2 separate regions of the Homo sapiens genome follow, and region 1 is linked to region 2. Evidence: fine-mapped expression QTL. A gene starts in region 2. The other region holds a variant in brackets. All regions are shown on one strand. Distances are between the middles of the regions.

Region 1 (2,921 bases), 34 kb before region 2:
TCCAGCATCAGTTTGGAAGCTATACTAGGTTGATCTTTGGACAATCCAGACCCACAGGTGAGTATGTTTGGAACCATTTATCGCCTACCAATCCCTCCTTCATCAGGAAAGCAGGAAGTTTTGACAAATAGCATCCAAAACCACATGGTTTTATGAGATTTGGGCTATTTAGTGCTAAGGAAATAATCCACATGAGGCCGGGAGCAGTGGCTCACACCTGTAATCCTAGCACTTTGGGAGGCCGAGGCAGGCAGATCACAAGGTCAGGAGATCGAGATCATCCTGGCTAACACGGTGAAACCCCATCTCTACTAAAAATACAACAAAAGAGCCGGGCGTGGTGGCGGACTCCTGTAGTCCCAGCTACTTTGAAGGCTGAGGCAGGAGAATGTCATGAACCCGGGAGGTGGAGCTTGCAGTGAGCCGAGATCGTGCCACTGCACTCCAGCCTGGGCGAGAGAATGAGACTCTGTCTCAAAATAATAATCATAATCATAAATCATAATCCACATGAGCTATATAAGAACAGATAATCTATTCAAGGAGAGAGAATGAATGCATGAGATATCCTGTAGCCCTCCAATCCTGATCTATATTATGAGAATTTGGGGGTGCTTGCTAATTTGTTTTTTTGTTTTTTGTTTTCAGAAACAGGTTCTCACTTTGTCAACCAGGCTGGAATGCAGTGGTGCAATTGCAGCTCACTGCAGCCTCAAACTCCTGGGCTCAAGCAATCCTCCCACCTGAGCTTCCCGAAGCACTGGGATTACAAGTGTGAGCCACTGCACCAGCCTAATTTGTAATATTTGCATTGGAAAGTAGAAGCAGCCTGCCTCTCAGTGCCCCAGATTTGAAAAAGCAAGTTACAATCACGTGTCATTACAATGAATTATTTTGGATATGAAAGAGGAAGACAGGACACCTTATGAGAGGAGCTGCAGTGAGGAGGCTGCATTGTGGCCCTTTCTTTTTAAAAATGTGTATATTCAAGATGTACAACATAATATTTTGATGTATTATACATAGTGAAATGATTGGGTGGGGGTGGGGGAGACTGAGGGCAGAGAGGTGTGAGGGACGTCCTTTACTCCTGGAGTATGTGAAATAGAGCACAGGAGGAAATCTCATGCGTAAGAGAGCTGACAAACCAGTATGGACACTGCCCAATTATCACTTAATGTTTCCTTGAAAATAAAAATGATGCTGATGAAAAACTGCTCTGACATTGCTTTTCCAGGTTCTAAACCTTCTATGCCTTATAAAATTAATCTATGAATTATTTGGGATCCTAGCAAGGAGAAGGAAGTTTTTCCTGATCGTCGACAAAGGAATATCCCTAAAACATGCATTTGGGTTCCTTTTAGTTCTAAATTCCAGGACTCAATCACAATGTTAACTTAACCTGCTTCACAGACGTTTCAGTTGCTGCACTTTAAAATGTACTACATCAGATTTTGTCAATTAAAAAATGCTTAGGTTTTCCAATACTGCTCAACAACTTGTTGAGAACAAATTTGTGGGGGCAAGGTGGGTGAAATAAAGTGTCAGTGAAAATACTCAACTTCTCCCTCAGGT[G/A]TAAAAATCTCTCAGAGAATTTACAGTTGAGCAACCTTATGAGATATCTTTGTTTGCTCTTTTGACTCAAGTTTATTGTAGGAACAAAAACTTCACTTGCATCATTTTATGGTCAGGTTTCTAAACACTTTCTATGTTTGCATTTCTTAAACCAACAAACTCTGCAATGCATTGTGGACACATTTTGTTTTTGTAAGATCTTTCTCTGCATTTAAACATTTTATCTTTTAGTTATACTTAGCTTTTATATATAAAAGTATTTGGAACTCAACAATATTGCCAACACATATCGCCCAAATCAGCAGTCAGCTATAGCCCGTCTTTTATTTCTGGATGAAGCAACCGAGGGGGCCTGGCGCAGTGGCTCATGCCTGTAATCCCAACACTTTGGGAGGCCGAGGTGGGTGGATCACCTGAGGTTAGGAGTTTCATACCGGCCTGACCAACATGGAGAAACGCCATCTCTACTAAAAATACAACATTAGCCGGGTGTGGTGGCACATGCCTGTAATCCCAGCTACTTGGGAGGCTAAGGCAGGAGAATCACTTGAACCCACCAGGCGGAGATTGCAGTGAGCCGAGATAGTGCCATTGCACTTCAGCCTGGGTGACAGAAGGAGACTCCATCTCAAAAAAAAAAAAAAAAAAAAAAAGCAACGGAGGGGCTATTTAGGAAAGAAGGAAAAATTGTTTTAAGAATAAATGTTTCCCAATAGTTTGCATATAATAAAATACAATGTCAAAGCCAAAGTGAAACTAAGGTTAAAAGGATATTCAGATTGCTATAACAGAAATATGCAGCTGTATATTAAAGCAGTACCATGTAATTGACTTCACTCTGTATTTCTTTCACACTCAAGCTTTATTTTTCCAGTGGTGATGTGAATTTTTACTATTCTAGCCACAAAATTCATTAATAATATATGTGGAGATTCCTGGCCAAGGAAGTTTATATAAAAAGAGGTTGTTGCAGTTTGGGAAAAGGATAATCTGACTTGAGATCAGCTCTGCCACTCAGCTGTGAGAACACAGTAGACTAATAACTAATAGTTATCCTCACAGAGCCTTGGTTTCCTTACCTGTAAACTATGCATGAAAACCATCACAGTGTGATCATGAAGACTGAATTAAATGAGCAGCTCCATGTGGAAGCTCCTTGAGATCTTTAAAACAATACAAATGTTAACTATTTCTGTGGGAATGGGAAAAATAGGGTTACTTTCTCTACAGTCTCAAACTCTTCCACCATCTAGAGCAAACAATTATCCCATTATTTTGTGGTTACCAACTTGTCAAGAAAAATGCATGACTCTAAAGTGGGTGGACAGCTAGTTCAGTTGGAAGAG
Region 2 (2,921 bases):
TTGTTAAATATAAGCATGTCCTATCGGTCTTTCTGACCTCATCACAGTTTTTAAATCCAAAACGACAGCTCACAGTGGGATGATGAGAGTTCAGACACACCTTGTGCTAAAAGCAGGAGAGGCAAGTTCTGGAGGACCACATAACAAGTACCGAAGAAAAGACTTAAAATGCTGCCCAATATCAACATCAAAATGAAATTTTACTAGAACAAATGACCTTCAGGAAACAGGAGAGAAAGAAAGGATAGATAGGACAGGATATAGATTAAGGCCCTGAAACAAATGATGTGCTATCATAACTGTGCCAAATTATCTTTGTACCATCACAAAATAAACTGAAGTTATTTCCTCAAATGTCATTCAAAATAAGCATGCTAAACATTTCTTACCATATTTGAGTATTATTCAATTTACTCAAAGGAAATAATCACCTAAGTGAATTTCAGCAAATCTTTTTATACCGTCTCTCTGACTATAACATTCCTTCTTTGTCACAGACACGATTATAGTTTCATGCCCCTATTTAAGATAACCACAATCATAGTTCAGTACCATTACCTAGATATATCTCATGGTGTAATATCACATATCTACCCATTGAGATAAACAATCTTTTGTAGGTTTCTAACTCATTTGCTTTCCAGTGTTTCCCACTTCTTAAGTTGGGTAGAGAAGGGAGAAGAAAAGAGGAAGTTAGAAGAAAAATGATTACCCTCACCAGGAAAAAAAAAAGAAAAACACAGCAATATTAAGAGTAATTCGGAATTGACTCTTTAACATTGAATCACGTAATAAATTTTTTTCCCTATAATTTATAGGTCACATTTACTTTCATCTTCTTATTTTGTGGGAAGGAGAGGTGGTATTCAATTTTCCCCTCTGCCTTGTGTGTTTTCTTTGCAATTGGAAACGTAGCAGAAATGGAGCTGGGAGTGCAGTAACTGGGACAATTGATTTCTTTTTGGTTACCTTGTAATTTCTGGTTGTATTCGGTCCTGTCAGATTGGCTCCTCCTCAAGGTGCCAGAGTGGTCCCCAGAAACACTGCTCTCAACCACAGTGTCAGTCTTCCTTCTCTCCAGCATATAGAGTCTAGACCTCAAGAAGGCCAGATTCTTTTTCTTGGTGACCATGTTTTCTTTCCCAGTGGCTTCTTTGGGCTCCATATTAGGCAAAGACAAGCTTTGGAGGCTTGCAGGCAATGGCTGATTGCTAAGGTGCCTCAGGGTGAGGGTTAAAGCTACTAGAGTGACGAGTTTATCTGCTCCCTTCTAACTAAACCGCTTCACTCCAGGGTTACCTGGCTGTGACTGCCACCACCTCTACGAAGTCCCAGAGCTCCACCCACATGAGGTCATTCTTTTTTAAACCTAGAATCCAACAGGGGAAGCTGCCACCTGTTACCTGAGAGACTTGCAGCACAGAGCTAGGCAAAGCAGGGACTGTGCTGTCACATGCTACTGAAGCAAACAAAAATCCTATTGTATGGGGTGAGGGGTGGGGAAAAAGGAAAATGAACAAGGTGAGGCAGTGAGGAAGGAAGTACACGTTAGCATAACCCGCCGTTTATGGGTTTAATGTGTGCCCATGGGTGTGTGCAGGTGCACTCAGGGCACTGTGTTGTGGTCTGCTGCCTGGAGGCAGACCAGGGCTTGTGCGTGGCTTTTGGCTAGAGTTACTCACAGGTGACCCACGGAGTCAGTGCAGGGGCTATGAGAATTTGCATTTGCATCAAAACGGTGAGTACAGAATCATTTTCAGTGATTACTGTGCACACTCAAAGTTATGCTTCTGCCTTTAAGCGTTGAACATTCAGCAATTATTTACTGAAAACATACTTGCCAAACCCTGATCCGCATTCCTGAGGAAATAAGGATTCACATGTGAGAGTCATCTGGCAGCAGGCAGAAGAAGTGGAGGGGAATGCCCATAGAAGCCTAGAGCCTTTTCAGATTTCTCACTCTCCACAGGCTGCCCTTGCCTGAAATTAATCCTTCCATGGTCCCACCCTGTCCTTTTATGTTTTGGTCCTTAGGAAAATAAGCCCCGTGTCAGGGTTCAGTTTCTATAAGATCTTTTCCCTGTCCCTTTCATAGACGGAGTGCCAGAAAAGGGCATCCCACCTTGGGAATTTAAGGAGAGGAAAAATGTTTGAAACTGAAGGGGCACTACACTTCTAGAAAGTAGAAAGGATAGGGCAGGGATTAAAAGAGAGAAAGGCAGACAGTGATAGGCCTTTCATTAATTTTTTTGAAGTTGTTTTTCCTCATATTTCCTGAGATCTCTCAAGGGAAAAATTCTAAGAAGCTCTGGGAATGTGCTGAGTGCTCTGTATGCCTTCGTTAAAGAAAAGAAAGACCCTAAGGAGGAAAATGGATTCTCTCCTATTGTAAAGGGACCACCAAAATCCAGCTCTGTGCTGACCAGTCTGAATCTTGCATAACTTCTGTTGGAAAAGATTTATAAATGAGGAGAAAGATGTAAAAGTCATTTCCCAGCTCAGGATGTGTGTGCTCAATATAGTTTGCATAATTATCTTAAAAGATAAATGACACATCTTCACCCACTATGGAGACATCTATATATAGCTTGGCGTATTGAATGGCTTTTATTTAATATAATTGATAGTCTTTTTTGAATAAATCCTCCCAAGTACATTTAATAAATACTTTTAAAGGCTTATTTACCTCTAAAATATAAAAGGAATTTTTTGGATTTATGTCAAAATGCCTCAATTGTGTTCGAATATTATATATGTATGAATGTATGTATGCATATACACACTTATTTATATTCACCTGGTAACCACCAGGGATTTATTTAGATACGGTATCACTGAAAAAAAAAGTTCAATTAAAACTACAGGACTTAATGGGTAACATGAGGTTTAGGACAGAGCACTCAGAAACTTTGTCAATGGAC

The links.
Region 1: its variant is fine-mapped to the expression of ARHGEF38 in thyroid (GTEx, PIP above 0.99).

The regions. Positions count from the first base shown.
Region 1 is chr4:105,585,034-105,587,954 of GRCh38, reverse strand. The region is part of intron 1 of ARHGEF38 (Rho guanine nucleotide exchange factor 38); the gene reads right to left. Among named protein-coding and RNA genes, the nearest start is that of ARHGEF38-IT1, 25 kb to the right of the region's middle. The variant G/A (reference allele first, on the strand shown) is at 1,576.
Region 2 is chr4:105,551,010-105,553,930 of GRCh38, reverse strand. ARHGEF38 (Rho guanine nucleotide exchange factor 38) reads right to left here and starts at 1,311. Exons shown (of 14, transcript NM_001242729.2): 1 at 970-1,311. The coding sequence starts at 1,165. LOC105377352 (a long non-coding RNA gene) reads left to right here and starts at 1,647. Exons shown (of 5, transcript NR_188418.1): 1 at 1,647-1,738.